Regions from separate parts of the Homo sapiens genome. Here region 1 is linked to region 2. Evidence: fine-mapped expression QTL. Tissue or cell type: whole blood. Region 2 holds a variant in brackets; the other region holds the start of a gene. All regions are shown on one strand. Distances are from middle to middle.

The links. PIP is the estimated chance that this variant, and not a neighbour inherited with it, causes the effect.
Region 1: it holds the start of RHBDD2, and the variant in region 2 is fine-mapped to the expression of RHBDD2 in whole blood (TOPMed, PIP above 0.99).

The regions. Positions count from the first base shown.
Region 1 is chr7:75,874,495-75,882,671 of GRCh38, reverse strand. It overlaps RHBDD2 (rhomboid domain containing 2), which reads right to left and starts at 3,638. Exons shown (of 4, transcript NM_001040456.3): 1 at 3,412-3,638; 2 at 436-843. The coding sequence starts at 3,589. RefSeq lists silencers at 3,258-3,437, 3,538-3,787 and an enhancer at 3,334-3,942.
Region 2 is chr7:75,914,566-75,922,742 of GRCh38, reverse strand. It overlaps POR (cytochrome p450 oxidoreductase), which reads right to left and starts at 7,588. Exons shown (of 16, transcript NM_001395413.1): 1 at 7,564-7,588. MIR4651 (microRNA 4651) reads right to left here and starts at 7,546; the gene lies at 7,474-7,546. It also overlaps the pseudogene RPL7L1P3. RefSeq lists a silencer at 7,381-7,870 and an enhancer at 8,131-8,177. The variant A/G (reference allele first, on the strand shown) is at 3,786.

The DNA.
Region 1 (8,177 bases), 40 kb after region 2:
TTACCAGATATGAAAAAAAAAGTAAAAAAAAATTATGATCAGATATGACTCGGCCACGGTGGCTCACACCTGTAATCCTAGCACTTTGGGAGGCCACGGTGGGTAGATCACCTGAGACCAGGAGTTCAAGACCAGCCTGGGCAACATGGTGAAACCCTGTGTCTACTAAAAAGAAAATATAAAAATTAGCCGGGTGTAGTGGTGCACACCTGTAGTCCCAGCTACTCAGGGGGCTGAGGCAGGATTGCTTGAGCCCAGGAGGCAGAGGTTGCAGTGAGTTGAGATCCTGCCACTGCACTCCAGCCTGGGTGACAGAGACTCTGTTTCGAAAAAATACAAAGTAAGCCCAATTTTATCTACTTGACACCCCAGACCCTCCAGCCTGGTTCACCCTTTGACATGCGTTGTTCTATAGCTCTCTGCTAGGAAGGATACAGGCCAGCCCGATGGACAGCCCGCAGACATTACTGAGGAAAGAGGTCTGGGGAATGAGCCACGAGGCACCCAGCAGGAGCCACGGAACCAGGACTGAGGGCACAACCATGCCAAACACCAGGGCCCGCCTCATCCGAGAACGGACGGTGGTGACTCCCAGCATGGCAAAGGCCACTGGGGTGAAACCTCTGGCATCCTCCACTTCCCCCAGCTTTGACAGTGATGACACAGCCTCGAATGACAGGAAGATGATAGCGGAGAAGATGGCGAAGATCACGGTGAAGAAGCAGTGGCGGACGGTGCCCACGGTTCTCTCGAAATTGCCAGCAAAGCGCCAGATGATGATAGCGCCGCAGAGCAGGGAGATGGGATTCTCGTAGACAAAGATGTAGGTTACCAGCCTGTAAACTGCAGAGGGAGTCGGGTTAGAGGCCTGGCGGCGGGTTGCTCCCAGGAGGGAAGCCAGGTTATAAGCCGCCTAGGAAAGGCAGAGAGCCCCCCTCCGTGACAGAGAAGTGAGAGCCAGTGAGTCGCAGCAGGAGGCAATACAAGCAGTGCGTTCAACAATGAAGGACCCAGAGCCTCAAAGGAGAGGCATGAATATCTAATCCCTACACTTCCCCAGGCCTGGTGCAACTCTTAGCGGTAACTGACTTCCAGAGGGAAAAAAATAATACTTTTCGGTAGAGGGCAGTCTCTGAATTTGTAAAGTGCTTTATAATCCTTTTTCAGGTTTTCATACTGACCTACCTCACTGGGCAGTTTGAGGGTTAATTAAGTGTAACAGCTTCGGGGTGGATTGAGTGGGTGTCACTTAACACTCTGTGTGCCAGTCTCCTCTGCTGTAATCCTGACCCCTCCTTCCATAGTGGCTGTTCAGAGGAAGAAAAAAGGGACCATGAATTATTTTGCAGCTGTAAGAATTATAACACTATCATTAACAATAAAGATTATAGAAATTATAAGTCTCCTCAGAAAGTGCTTATCCGATCTCACAGGTAAACTGATGCTTTATATGTAATAAGACATCAAAGAATCCTCCTTTTCCTTTTTTTAAATTTTTATTTGTAGAGACAAAGTCTTGCTACGTTGCCCAGGCTAGCCTTGAACTCCTGGCCTCCAGTGATCCTCCTGCCTTGAATTCCCAAAGTGCTGAAACTACACATACGAACCATCATTCCTGGCCTTTTATTTTTCTAAAAGCAGTTATCGCCAGGCATGGTGGCTCACACCTGTAATCCCAGCATTTTGGGAGGCTTAGGTGGAAGGATCACTTGAGCCCAGGAGTTCAAGACCAGCCTAGGTAACATAGTGAGACCCCCGTCTTTAAAAAAAATTTAAAAATTAGTCAGGTGTGATGATGTGTACTTGTAGTCCCAGCTACTTGGGAGGCTGAGGCAGGAGGCTCGCTTGATTCCAGGAGTTGAACGCTGCAGTGAGCTATGATTGCATCTCTGCACTCCAGCCTGGGTAAGACGAAGACCCTATCTCTAAAAAAATTTTAGAAGTGGTTATCTCTTAAGTATTTTTATGTCCCTGCATGCCCAAATACGACTAAACTCAAGGAGAGAGACCAAAGAACTGATGGTAATATTGGACTTGGGAGTCTAAAGACTTGGAGTGGAATCTTGGCTCTATTACATCCAGGCTGGCTGAGTTTAATCATGTCACAGGTCCTCTAGGCGTCAGTTTCCTCACTGTAAAGTAACAAGAGTTAGATTGAGGACTTCAAAGGTCCCTTACGTCTCTAACGCTCACATATCCACGAAACCCACACCCAGGGAAGCAGTGAACCCCAGAAAGTGGGAGGTTAAGGTTAGGTTGGCATTTTGCTTCTGTCTGTGAGGTGGTGCTATGTATACCTAGGGTGGGGGGAACAGTTTTAGATTGGAGTGGGGAAGCAGGCTATGGAACCATATACCTCAGTCTGGCCATCACCAGAGGCTTCATTATCTGAAGAGTACTTCATTATTTGTTGAGTATTTCCAAAACTGAAATTCCAAGTATAAACATGAAAAGATTCTAGAAGCAACTGTACATGATTTGGAGATTATCTACCCGAAGGCTCTAGTTCCAAAACATCACAGAATAAAAAAAAAAATATAGATTCCTATCTCAATTGCATGACGCAACAGCTCTGCGATTCTCTGCATGAAACCTCAATCTTATCTAGATAACGGGCCAATAACAGGTCCTACGTCATGGGATCCTTGTGAGGGTTAAACGAAATTAATACATATCAGTGTGTGTGCTTTGCAAAACAGCAGGAGATATGCAAATTTCCTGTGTTCCTCTCGAGAAAATGAGGAAGACACGGAGACTAGGAATGTCTTTCAGGAATGGATGTTTATACTTAATTGGTCTGCAAAATTTCTCTCCCCTAGAGAAAAACAAACACTTCTCTCCAAAGGCAGAAGACACCCTGGTACCCCCATGAGCTGGGAATGGCAGTCAAGATTAAGATACAGATGAAAAAGCAGAAGAAATTCCAAATCTCAAGAGGGCAGGACGTTTATAGGGCTTATAGGGGTTTGTGGATAAAGTCCAATTGTCGTGATGTAGGTGAGAGAAAAACGTTTTTCAGTGGGGCTTAGGCCTAAAGCAGACGTAGGTGTGTATGTGAAATGGGAGGGGGAGACGAAAAATCTTTACCCTTGGAGAGCGAGCATGGATTTGCTAGCGAATGGATTTGGGGCCTTAACCAGTCTGGTGGCGACAGGGAAGGGAACAAATTCGGGTAGGGAAGGGATTACAGTGATGACGAAGATGGGGTCTGCAGACAAAGGTGTGGAACACGGAGAGCAAGAGACGGTGCTGGAGGTCGGTCCTCCGGGGGGCGGGCATGGTGATGAGGACCGAGACAGGGGGAGACTGGCGGTGAGGCCTGAAGGGGCGAGTCCCGGAGGCTAGAGCCCAGGAACCGGCAAAGTCGGAGGACAAGGACTCGCCCCGCGATCCCGGCCCGCCCCTGCTCACCTTGCCAGTTGCGAAGGGCCTCGGACTTCAGCGTGAGGCCCGAGGGCGCCAGGGGCTGCTGCAGCAGGAACAGGCGAGGCCCGGAAACCAGCAGCGAGAGCAGCGCAGTGAAGAAGGTGGCGGATGGCACCTCGGGACACAAGCACCAGCTGCGACACCCGGGCCCCGAGGCCGCCATGGCCGCCGTCGTTCCCGCGCCCCGCCTCGACGCCGGCTGCCGGTCCTCTGCTCCTTCCGCCTCCTCGCGGCAGTTTCCCTTGGCAACAGCAGAGGAGCCGGCCGGAGGCCACGCCTCCCAGAGGCCCCGCCCCATGCCAAGTTGTCCAATCCGGTAGCGCCGATCAGCCCCCCCCCCCCCCCCCCCCGTGCGTGGGAGGCCGGGACGGGGGGAGGGGGGTCGGGGCCACTTCCGGGTAGGAATGTTCCAGCACCGTGTTTGATTCCATCCTACTCGGGCTGGTACTGAAACTGCTCCTATAAACTTTAGGAAATTAATCAGGGAAGAAGGGAGGGGGAAAAACGAAAATAAACGAAGCTTGCAGCACACTCTGCGTTCATCACTAGGTCACCTTGCTCTCCGACCTGCTTGCTCATAGCTCTGTGTATCAGCTATGATAGGTGCCCATCGTCTGTCCTAGAATCACGTAGACCCTGTCACAAGATTACAATTCCCCTTAACTCCATAGATAACAACTTGAACATTATGAAACGTTTTCCCTTGGAGATATTCTTTCAGGTCCCGCATACCAGCATAATTACTGACACCAGTTGTTCTGAAGGAGCCCACAGAAGCAAGACTCAATGGGGACTGCAGTTTCCATATCCTGAGGATTTCAACCCCCTTACCCTGACCAGTCGATGACCCCAATTTTCCAGCCCCTCACCCTTCACAATGCCCTTTAAAATCCCAGCCCGGAACTCCTTGGGGAAGATGGATTTGTTGGTCTCCCTGCGTCTCCTCCTAGGCACCCTGCCATCTTTAAACCCTTTTTCTGCTGATAACCCTGCTTCCTCAGTGTAACTGGTCTGTTATTGCACAGCGGGCCTAGGCACCTGTTGGTCCTGTAATAATACCTCATGATTATTATGCCTTACAGCTCACAGAACTCTTTCATATCACGATCTTCCCATCTGTATTCATCCCTATTACACCAAAGAGGAAACAGGACTAGGGAGGGCCCTGGGTAATTCAGTTACATGGCAAAGACAGAATTAGAACTCAGTTCCTCCTGCTATGGCCCGGAATTGGCCTCCAGTACAGCCAGGGGCAGCTTTATCTTCATATTGAAGAAAAGGGGCAGGAGGCTGGGCACGGTGGCTCACGCCTGCAATCCCAGCACTTTGGGAGGCCGAGGCGGGCGGATCACGAGGTCAAGAATTAGAGACCAGCCTGGCCAACATGGTGAAACCCCGTCTCTAATAAAACTACAAAAATTAACCCGGCATGGTGGCGCGTGCCTGTAATCCCAGCTACTCCGGAGGCTGAGGCAGGAGAATCGCTTGAACCCAGGAGGCGGAGGTTGCAGCAAGCCGAGATCGCACCACTGCGCTCCAGCCTGGGTGACAGAGCAAGACTGTATCTCGGAAAAAAAAAAAAGGAAAAGGGACAGGAAACGGGAGAGGGATTCAATGGAAGGGACTCAAAAGTTAGGGATGTAATAGAACACTCATAACCGAGATCTATTTCAGCACTTTACAGTTTGAAAAGTGCTTTTGCTGGAGAACAGCTGTTTAAGGTAGACCTTCCTTTTTTTTTGACAAGAGTCTCACTCTGTCACCCAGGCTGGAGTGCAGTGGCGTGATCTCTGCTCACTGCCACCTCTGCCACCCAGATGCAAGTGATTCTTGTGCCTCAGCCTCCCGAGTCCCAAGTAGCTGGGACTACAGGTGTGCATCACCACGCCCAGCTAATTTTTGCATTTTTAGTAGATATGGGATTTCACCACATTGGCCAGGCTGGTCTCGAACTCCTGACCTCAGGTGATAAGCCTGCCTTGACCTCTCAAAGTCCTGGAATTACAGACATGAGCCACTGTGCCCAGCAGTACCTTCAAGGGTACTACCTTTTTCGCTTTCTCCAGTGACCCTGCCCAGTACTCCCTCCCCTCACATGGTAGAAGTATTTGGCTCCTTCCCCACACACCCACCCTAGTGTTATCAGCTCCTTGCCCTTGGCTGCAGGCTTTGGTTTGACTCAGCTGTAACTGCTGCCCCCCATAGCTTAGAAGCTCCTGCTGGCTCTGAAGGAAGGAGGCTAAATTTTGGGGCTTGTGTGTCCTGCTTCAGTAGCACAATCATAGCTCACTGCAGCCTTGACCTCCCGGGCTCATGGTATCCTCCTGCCTCAGCCTCCCAAGTAGCTGGAACCACAGGTGCGTGCTACCGCACCTAGCTAGCTGCTTCTTTTTTGTAGAGATGGGATCTTGCTCTGTTGCCCAGGCTGGTCTTGAACTCCTGGGCTTAGGCAATCGTCCCGCCTTGGCCTCCCAAAGTGCTGGGATGACAGGTGTGAGCCACCATGCCTAGCCTGTTGTGTGCTTTTTATGTAGTTACTCATTACATTTTCACAACCCTTGTGAGGCTGGTTCTGTAATTACGCCCGTTTTACAGATGAAGCAATGGAGATACAGAGAAGTTAAGTAACTTAAAATTAGGCAACAAGTCTTCCAGGAATTTTTTTTTTTTTTTTTTGAGACGAAGTCTTGCTCTGTCACCCAGGCTGGAGTGCAGTGCTGTAATGTCTGTTCACTGTAACCTCCTCCTCCCTGGTTCAAGCAGTTCGCTGCCTCAGCCTCCTGAGGCACTTCCCATATTATACTATCATTGCATATTTGTGCCCGTAATTGTGAGCTTACCAAGGGCAGAAGCCATGTCTGATTTATACCTGTGTCTGTATCCACAGCCCTGGCACCTAGCACACAGTGGGGCCACAGAAAATGTTCAATGCAAAGTTATTAGCCCTGATGCCTTTGGGATGTGACCTACTTCCCTTCCTTGTCTCTTGTCCAGAAGCCGAGGGTTCTCACGTAATTGAGACCCCTGGGGACTGTTATAACAACAGCCACCATCCCGAATGCATTTCACACTGAATTTCTGGCAAGAATTTCAAGATATTTTTTGAAGAGGAGACCTGAGGTACACCAGTCTAGGATGGCATGGCCAGTCAGCCCACCTAGCTCTCTGTAGAAAGAGTTTTCTGCATTTGCTGTGCAGAGGGTTTAGGCTCGGAGAGGGCAGTTGCAGGAGATATTCACGTTTCCCTTAAGGGAAACCTAGGATTGCAGGTGTGAGACACTGCACTTTTTTTTTTTTTTTTTGAGACTGAGTTTCGCTTTTGTTCCCCAGGTTGGAGTGCAATGGTGTGATCTTGGCTCACCGCAACCTCCGCCTCCCCGGTTCAAGCGATTCTCCTGACTCAGCGTCCCGAGTAGCTAGGATTACAGGCATGCGCTAGCATGCCCGGTTAATTTTGCATTTTTAGCAGAAACGGGGTTTCACCATGATGGTCAGGCTGGTCTCGAACTCCCGATCTCAGGTGATCCGCCTGAGATCTCAGCCTCCCAAAATGCTGGGATTACAGGCTTGAGCCACCACGCCCAGCCCACTGGGCCTTTTTGTTGTTGTTGTTTGTACAGACAGAGGTCTCACTATGTTGCCCAGGCTGGTCTCAAACTCTTGGGCTCAAGTGATCCTCGTGCCTGGGCCTCCCAAAGTGTTGGGATTCCAGGCATGAGCCAAGCCAAAAACCAGGAGATAAATACCATGTTATACTGGCCATTTCCTTTAATGTTCCCTTAAAGGAGACATTAATGGCTCCTACATTAGCATTTGAGAAGCAGCCAGTGTGGAGCTGGTGGAGCTCAGGCTGGAAGTCAGGAGGAAGCAGGACCTCACCCTGGCTCTTTCACTCGCTGCCTGAGTGATCTTGGGTAAGGGAGCCTCAGTTTCCTCATCTATAAAATGGGAACTAAGTCTTATCTTGCAGGGTTTTGATGAAGAAAACAGATAAGATTGACCGAGGGACGAATAGGATGTGAGGAGGTCACACTGTGAGTTAGTGGAAGAGCTAGGATTTGAACTTGGGTCATTAGATCTCTAAAGTTGTTCTATTTCTTTTTATTTTTTTGAGACAGAGTCTTACTCTGTCGCCCAGGCTGGAGTGCAGTGGCGTGATCTTGGCTCACTGCAACCTCCACCTCCCAGGTTCAAGTGATTCTCCTGCCTTAGCCTCCCCAGTAGCTGGGATTACAGGCACATGCCACCACGCCCTGCTAATTTTTGTATTTTTAGTAGAGACAGGGTTTCGCCATGTTGGCCAGGCTGCTCTCAAACTCCTGGCCTCAAGTGATCCATCTGCCTTGGCCTCCCAAAGTGCTGGGATTATAGGCGTGCGCCACTGCACCTGGCCAAGTTGTTCTATTTCTTTTTTTTTTTTGAGACGGAGTCTCGCTCTGTCGCCCAGGCTGGAGTGCAGTGGTGCGACCTTGGCTCACTACAAACTCTACCTTCCGAGTTCACGCCATTCTCCTGCCTCAGCCTCCCGAGTAGCTGGGACTACAGGCGCCCGCCACCACGTCTGGCTAATTTTTTTGTATTTTCAGTAAAGACGGGGTTTCACCATGTTAGCCAGGATGGTCTCGATCTCCTGACCTCATGATCCACCTGCCTTGGCCTTCCAAAGTGCTGGGATTACAGGCGTGAGCCCCTGTGCCCAGCCAGGTTGTTCTATTTCTACCACTACACACATCTCTACCATGGCAAGTATA
Region 2 (8,177 bases):
GCAGCTACTGAACATGCGCAACCCCACCACTGACACAAAATTTTATACCTGGATGGAAAACTAAAGTCCTACCAAAAGTTCCTACTGTACTTTGGAATAATCTTCAGAAGTACAGACCAGGCCAGGCGCAGTGGCTCACGCCTGTAATCCCAGCACTTCGGAAGGCCGAGGCGGGCAGACTGCTTCAGGTCAGGCATTCGAGACCAGCTGGGCAACATGGTGAAACCCCATCTGTACTAAAATTACAAAAAATTAGCCAGGCATGATGGCACACACCTATAATTCCAGCTACTCAGGAGGTTGAGGCACGAGAATTGCTTGAACCCAGGAGGCAGAGGTTGCAGTGAGCCAAGATTGCGCCACTGCACTCCAGCCTGGGCGACAGAGTGACAGGCTCTGTCTCAAAAAAAAAAAAAAAAAAAACTACAGATCAGACCCAATTTTGACATCTGAGCTCAGTCAATATGCAGGAGAAAGCTCAGCAGTAAACTTGGGGGACAGAAGCCATATTTATTCATTCATCCATTCATCCAAGTGCCTACCTTATGCCTGGCATTGTTCTATGCCCCAGCTTACACTCGCAGAAATGATAGGTTCCCTGTTCTCAACTGAATTCACCTTCTAGTCCAACCGTATTGCCACTAGGGAGGGGAGAATTAGACACCTTTTATTAAGTCACTGTTTATCCTTTATGAAAGCAGATGAAGAAGAAAACATGCAATAAGACAGTGACAGTGACCGGGCACAGTGGCTCCTGCCTATTATCCCAGCACTTTGGGAGGCTGAGCTGGGTGGACCACTTAAGGCCAGGAGTTCGAGACTGGCCTGGCCAACATGGTGAAACCCTGTCTCTACTAGAAATACAAAAATTAGCTAGGTGTGGAGGCACGTGCCTGTAGTGCCAGCTACTCGGGAGGCTGAGGCAGGAGAATCACTTGAACCTGACAGGTGGAGGTTGCAGTGAGCCAAATCGTGCCACTGCACTCCAGTCTGGGCGAAGAGAAAGGAGGGGTGACCGAAGCAGGGTTCCAAGATCAACCAGCAATGGTACCATGGACAGATCTTGGAACGTGGTAGGGAGGGGAAGAGAGGGAGAATTATGGGTCAATTACGGGTCAGCGCAGCAGGAAGTGACAAGGGGCTACAGTAAGACCACAGCAGTGGAAAGAGATTTAAAGGGCCGGGCGTGGTGGCTCACGCCTGCTGTAATCCCAGCACTTTGGGAGGCCGAGGCAGGCAGATCGCCTGAGGTCAGGAGTTCGAGACCAGCCTGGCCAACACAGTGAAACCCTGTCTCTACTAAAAATACAAAAATTAGCTGGGCGCGGTGCCGCGCACCTATAATCCCAGCTACTCGGGAAGCTGAGGCAGGAGAATCACTTGAACCTGGGAGGCAGAGGTTGCAGTGAGCTGAGATTGTGTCACTGCACTCTGAACAACAGAGCAAGAATCTGTCTCAAAAAAAAAAAAAAAAAAAGACTAAAAACTTACAGGACTTGGTGGTGGTGGGAGACCCAGAATGGAGAGGAAGGGAAAAGGGACAGGAGTCTTTTGTCCTTGGAGCTTCAGGGCCCAGGAAGTCGGTGAGGCCACTGACAGATAGAGCTCTTGTTGTGGAGGTTTCGGGTAGATGGGCTGGGAGCTTTTGATCACTGCTGTGACGCTGAATGACTCCTGAGTTTGCAAATCACGTTACGTAAGGAACGCGTCCAACGTGTCCATGTTAAGACTGTGTGGTTTCATGAGCAGTCAAAGGGTCTGAAGCCCTTCACCAAAACCAACAGTGGCTTTTCTCCACAAGACCACAAATACCTGACGGAACATTCCTGATGCCAAACTGCACTCTGAATGATGCCGGGCACCACTGGCTAATGCACTCTCCTGTGTATTCAAGAACTGCCATCCCTGTTTGCAGTGTTGAAAACTCAACCCAGGTGACCTATGGTCACTACATATGAGTTCAGAAAGTTCAGAAAGGTGACCGTAGTTCACGTGTTCCTAACCAAACCTGCAAACCTTTGTACAGGCCCGGCTTACCCAATGCACTGATGATGCATGCCCACGAAGATCAAAGTATCACTAGGACACAGTGCTCTAAGAACACCGGCATCACCACCGCAGAGGTGATGTGACGTGAGCTCAGAAACAGGGCTGTAGGAAAAAGTGCCGAAGATAAAAGGAGGGCAGATAAATAGAATGAGTAAGCACTGTTCTTAACTTTCACCTAGAAATAAATTACATCTGTTCCAAGTTAGAGGACACGCCCCACAATGCCCCATCTTCCTCCTCATTACTACATCCAAGTAGACAAAAGGCAACTTTCCCCCTTCTATTCTCCTACCAAATGTCTCCTAAAGAATTCAATTCTTATAAGCTGGACATGGTGGCTCACGCCTGGTAATCCTAGCACTTTGGGAGGCTGAGGCGGGTGGATCACTTGAGGTCAGGAGTTTGAAACCAGCCTGGCCAACACAGTGAAACCTCATCTCTACTAAAAATACAAAAAAAAATTAGCCGGGCGTGATGGCACGCGCCTGTAATCCCAGCTACTTGGGAGGCTGAGGCAGAAGAATTGCTTGAACCTGGAAGGCAGAGGTTGCAGTGAGCCAAGATCACACCACTGCACTCCAGCCTAGGCGAGAGAGTCAGACTCTGTCTCAAAAAAAAAAAAAAAAAAAAAAAAAAAGAAATTCAACTCTTGGAGAACAGTCCACAGCTGACAGCACCACAGTCTGGCCACCAACATATTCTAAGTTAGCCTTGAAACTGACGCATTTCGGGAAATTATGTGTACAATTCTCTCAGCTAGGTACAGATGCTGCACAAAGGAGATCCGAATGCCACACCCTCCAGCACTCCAATGAAAGGACAATTCTTAGATATCCCCCTATCCAAGTCACCTCTTTAACAAGTGAAATAAATAAGCTTCCCACATCAACAGTTTGCTGCACAAGCCACCAGAAGGATCAGGTTCCCCGGGGCTTTGTTCACAACACGTCCAAGCATCAACTGAGTTGCCACACCGACCAGCGTCAGGAGTAACAGTTACTGGGCTGGGCGCGGTGGCTCATGCCTGTAATCCCAGCGTTTTGGGAGGCTGAGATAGGAGGCTCACTTGAGGCCAGGAGTTTGAAACTAGCCTGGGCAACATAGCCAGACCCCACTTCTACAAATAATAAATAAATAAATAAACATACAGAGAGAGAAAAGGAAAGAAAGAAACAAACTGATGAACGTGGCTCCAGTGAACCCAACCAACTGGAGCCACCAATCTGCAAAGAACCATGGTCTGCCCCCATGGAATTCCTCCATCTTCTCTCCCTCTTATATGCATACACACACACACACACACACACACACGCACGCACAGATGCAGACAGGCGTGTGCACACTAATCCCAACAAGAACACAACTGATGTAAACATCTCGCTTGGGGAGGAAAAACTTTTAAGATGTAGAGCTCTAAAACAGTATGATTACAAATTTAGACACAGTAAAAATTTCCCAAATGGTTGTTCATTCACCCAGAGAGGATATTAGGCAGTAAGAGAATATTCAGTACAAGAAAACACTGTCCTGAGCCAGACATGGTGGCCGGTGCCTGTAATCCTAGCTACTCGGGAGGCTGAGGCACAAGAATTGCTTGAACCCAGGAGACAGAGGTTGCAGTGAGCCAAGATCACACCACTGCACTCCAGCCTGGGTGACAGAGTGAGACTCTGTCTAAAAAAAAAAAAAACACACAACACTGATCTGAGCTAGTCACATAGCCCTGACCTTTTAAA[A/G]CACCTCCCCATCTCTTCCCATGGTTCCTAGGACCATTTCAGACAAGTGCCACCACGCGACCTCAGCCTCATGCAATCTACACCCTACATGCCCCCCAGAGCTGGTGTGCCTGGGTGGGCTCAGAGAACTCCTAGCAATCCTCCAAGACCCAACTCAAACATCACCTCTCCCCTGGAGCCCTGCTGTGGAAACAAACAGCAGGCTCAGCACTAATAAAAGCCTCACCCCATCATCTTGAGAATGAATGCAACACACCGTGCCATTCTTGTTGAATTGTATGCTTGCTTCCCTCCCTGTGAGAGTTCTCAAGTGCCCAAACCAGAGCCTACACATATCCTAAGGCCGGATGTGTGCTTTTTTATGTGTCACGCTACAGGGATCCAAACAGCGCCAAGAAGATGAAGAAGGACCCACTGCTGAAAGGGTTAACATGTTCTGAGCTGTCCCAGAGGCAGGTGGAGTGGGTTCTTTCTCTGACTTTAGTGATGAAGAAACTAAGGCTTGGTATAGGTCAGCGGCCTATGCAAGCAGGTAAGTGACCTCTGACTCAGATGCTTCTCCCACCTGCCCGGCGGGTCCAAATTTCTGCCCAATGCCAGATGACAAAACTGCACAGCAAAACAAGTTGTTGTTTTTTGGGTTTTTTTTTCTGAGACAGAGTCTCACTCTGTCACCCAGGCTGGAGTGCAGCAGCACGATCTCGGCTCACTGCAACCTCCGCTTCCCAGGTTCAAGTGATTCTTCTGCCTCAGCCTCCTGAGTAGTTGGGATTACAGGTGCACACCACCACACCGGCTAATTTTTGTATTTTTAGTAGAGACGGGGTTTCACCACGTTGGCCAGGCTGGTCTCGAACTCCTGACCTCAAGTGATCTGCCTGCCTCGGCCTCCCAAAGTGCTGGGATTACAGGCGTGAGCCACCATGCCCAGTCAATTTTTGTATTTGTATTTTTTTTATAGAGACAGGGATTCGCCGTGTTGCCCAGGCTGGTCTCAAACTCCTGGACTCAAGCAATTCACCCACCTTGGTCTCCCAAAGTGCCGGAATTACAGGCGTGAGCCACTGTTCCCAGCCTAGAATTGGCATTTGAAAGTCTTTTAAGGCTGTAGCCACCTGGGAGGCTGTGTGCTAATGAGCACAGAATCTTTGGCCAGGTGGTGGGTACTCGAAATTCCAGCTACTCAGGAGGCTGAGGCAGAATTCAAGCAAGGAAAATTGCTTGAACCTGGGGGAGGTGGAGGCTGCACTGAGCCCACTGCGCTCCAGCCTGGGCGACAGAGCGAGACTCCATCTCAAAAAAAGAAAAGAAAAGAAAAGAAAATTGTCATTTCTCCATTTCACCTTTTTCTAACTTTAATTTTTAAGTGAGTCTGACATATAACAGAAAGTTAAATCCCAACATGCTCAATTGAGGCCACACACGGTGCTAGTGCCAGAGCTTGACCTCTGTTTCTCTGGCTCCTCCCTAAAGCACAAGGACATCGAAGCTCTTGTAGGGGCGGCCAGCCTCTCTGGAACCATGAAAGGTCCTATAACTTCAAGAGCTTCCATCAGAAAAAAAAAAAAAAAAAAGAAGAAGAAATAAGAAAGCCAGGAACGGTGGCTCACACCTGTAATCTCAGCACTTTAGGAGGTCAAAGCAGGAGGACCACTTGAACCCCAGAATTCGAGACCAGCCTGGGCAACATGGCAAACCAAATCTCTAAAAAACATTTAAAAAATTAGCTGGGTGTGGTGGTGCGTGCCTGTACTCCCAACTACTTGGGAGGCTGAGGAGGGAGGATTGCTTGAATCCTGGAGGTTGAGGCTGCAGTGAGCTATGATTGCGCCACTGCACTCCAGCCTGCACGACAGAGTGAGACCTGTCTCACAAAAAAAAAAAAGTTACTTAAAAGCTAAATTATTTTTAACTTGAAATGTTCCATGGACTTCACGAGTAAATGTTCTGGATTTGCCAAGCAGTTTTGATTTCAATTGGCCTGTCTCCTAATCATACACAGACTTACCTAACACAGATTCTGATTTTCAAGGGGTTAAGGGTGGATCAACCCAGAGTTAACCAACAGCAGGTCCTAAAATTCAGGTATGTCTGGCAGCAAACATCCTCTGTGGCATTTATAAACTCCTACTACCCAGGACGATCCACACCTGATTTACATTGGCTGCGGTCAATGCTGCTGTTTTCAGGAATATCCCTGGGTTGTTTCATTTCAAATCTACCTATTATTTCTTCAAGTGCTAGACCTGAAGAATTTTGGAAAATTAAGATCACTCCTAAGTTTCCACACCACCACGCAACTGGCAGCTAGCATCCCATTCTCTGAAATGCGGATGTTGTACAAATACTTTTTATAATAAGCTATCTGCTCAGCGAAAGTTTCCAACATTAGATGGCATGAAGGTCATAAGTAGCTCAAAAACCACTCTCTTAAAAGGAAAATAAGAACTCCTAAAACAGCCCTCCTCCCAAAAAAAAGGAAGTGGACCTTTCTGGGTTCCCTGGTTTACTAACTGGGCCTTTGGAGCTGTTCTCCTGACCAAGCCAACCCCATAACCACTCAAAAGGGATTTCCGTAGGTAGAACTTGCAAATGGTTAATGAATCAATGCCTTCTCCATAAAGCAAGACCCAAGGAATTACAGCAGTGAACAACGGTGGGGATACTGGATCCCCCAGAGGGTTCCATAAACGTTCTGCTTACAAGGAGGATTAAAGTTCTCGATGCCACTCTCTGGGACCCTGTCTTGATCCTCAGAATCTCAACCCTGTGGGGAGAGCAGGGTGGCTGTCTTACTACCAGACCCACTGATCAGAAAACGGAGGCTCCAGGAGGTATCTTGCTTGCCAAGAATCAAACCAGGGCCACCCAGTCCAGTCCTGTCTCCTTTTGTGCTGGCATCATTCTCCAGCTTGGCCAAGCTCAGAGGCAAGGCAAGGCAAGGCTGCAGCTTTAAGGGTTTAAGAGAGGAGACAGCCACTTTCATTGAAACAGCCCCAAACTCCTTATTAGTGGTCACCAGTTTACACAAGGGTAACTCGTTTTGAAAAACAATACGCAGAAAGTCGAAGTCAATCAAGCTCACTGAAACCTCTACTCTCCTCCCCCTGGCGCCCAAGAGACCTTGAACTCTTACCCAATTGCTCCCCCGATCTAAGGGTGTCCCGGCTCCCCCAGGAGATCCGGGTACCTGTGTTGTGGGGGCCGCCGAGACACCTGACTGCGAGGGGCACTGCCCTCAGGGATGCAGGCCGGGCTGGGGGGCTCCCGTGATCCATCGACTCAGCCCACCTGATGCTGCAGGGTTAGATTCGGGTCCCATGAGCATGCATCGAGCGCCTCTCACGTTAGGTACCCCCAGAATTCGCTGCCTCCCGAGGCCCATTCATCGTACAGATGGGGAAACTGAGGCTCGGAGAGTTAAAGTGGCTTAGCCCGTGGGGGGCGGCGGCGCGGGGACTGGACCCCGAGCCCTGAGATACCGAGCCCTAACCCTCAGCCGAGGGCCTGCCGGGCTCTCTCGGCCCAAGCTGTGGAAAAGTCGACCCTCAGGCCGCCGCGGGAGATCAGCTCTAGGGGAAGGGCGACGCGGAGGAGGGCCGGGGTGGGAGCCATGCCTTCCGCCCGAGCGTCGGGCCAGACGCGCAGTGCCCAGGCCCGAGGGCCCACCCCGACGCAGAGAGCCAGGCGGCCGCGGTGAACTGAGGCGCCCGGCAAACCCCGAGTCTTGGGGCCCGACCTCACCCACCCCGCCGTCGCCGCGAAAGATAGCACTCACCGCTGGCAGCCCGGCTGCTCTCTGCGGGCACCTGGGCAGGGCTCAGGCCCACACCACTGAGGCGCTACCACCGCCTTCGCCGGCCGCGGGGGTGGGGGCGTGGCCATTGGGCCGCCGCCCCGCCCACTCGAGCCGCGCGTGCATTCCCGGAGCCCCGCGCTTCCCCCTGCAAATTTGCGCTCTTGGTACGGCCCGGCCCGGCCACGCCCCCTCGCGGCTCGGCTGGGTCGCCCGGCAGAGAAATGAAAGTGCGTGGTTCCGGGGGTGGCGGAGTCGCCTGGAGACGGCGGCTGCGGCTTCTACAGCTCGGACCCTGCAGGTCACCGGGCCGGCTGCCCACCTTCCCGGGGATCACTGCAGAACTGTGGCTGTGCGCCCGCCGGTCTAGCCTCCTCCTTCGGGCCGCCGCTTGCTTGTGATCGCCACATTGTCTCCTCCACGGCCCTGTTTCCTCACCTGAAATTGGCGAGGCTTCAGGCCCAAGTCGTCTCCCTGGGTTCCCTCCATCCAGCCTGACGGCGGAGGGCGCGCGTTTGTTTTTAGAGACAGGGTCTCGTTCTGTCGCCCAGGCTGGATTGCAGTGGTGCAGTCACAGCTCACTGCAGCCTTCAACT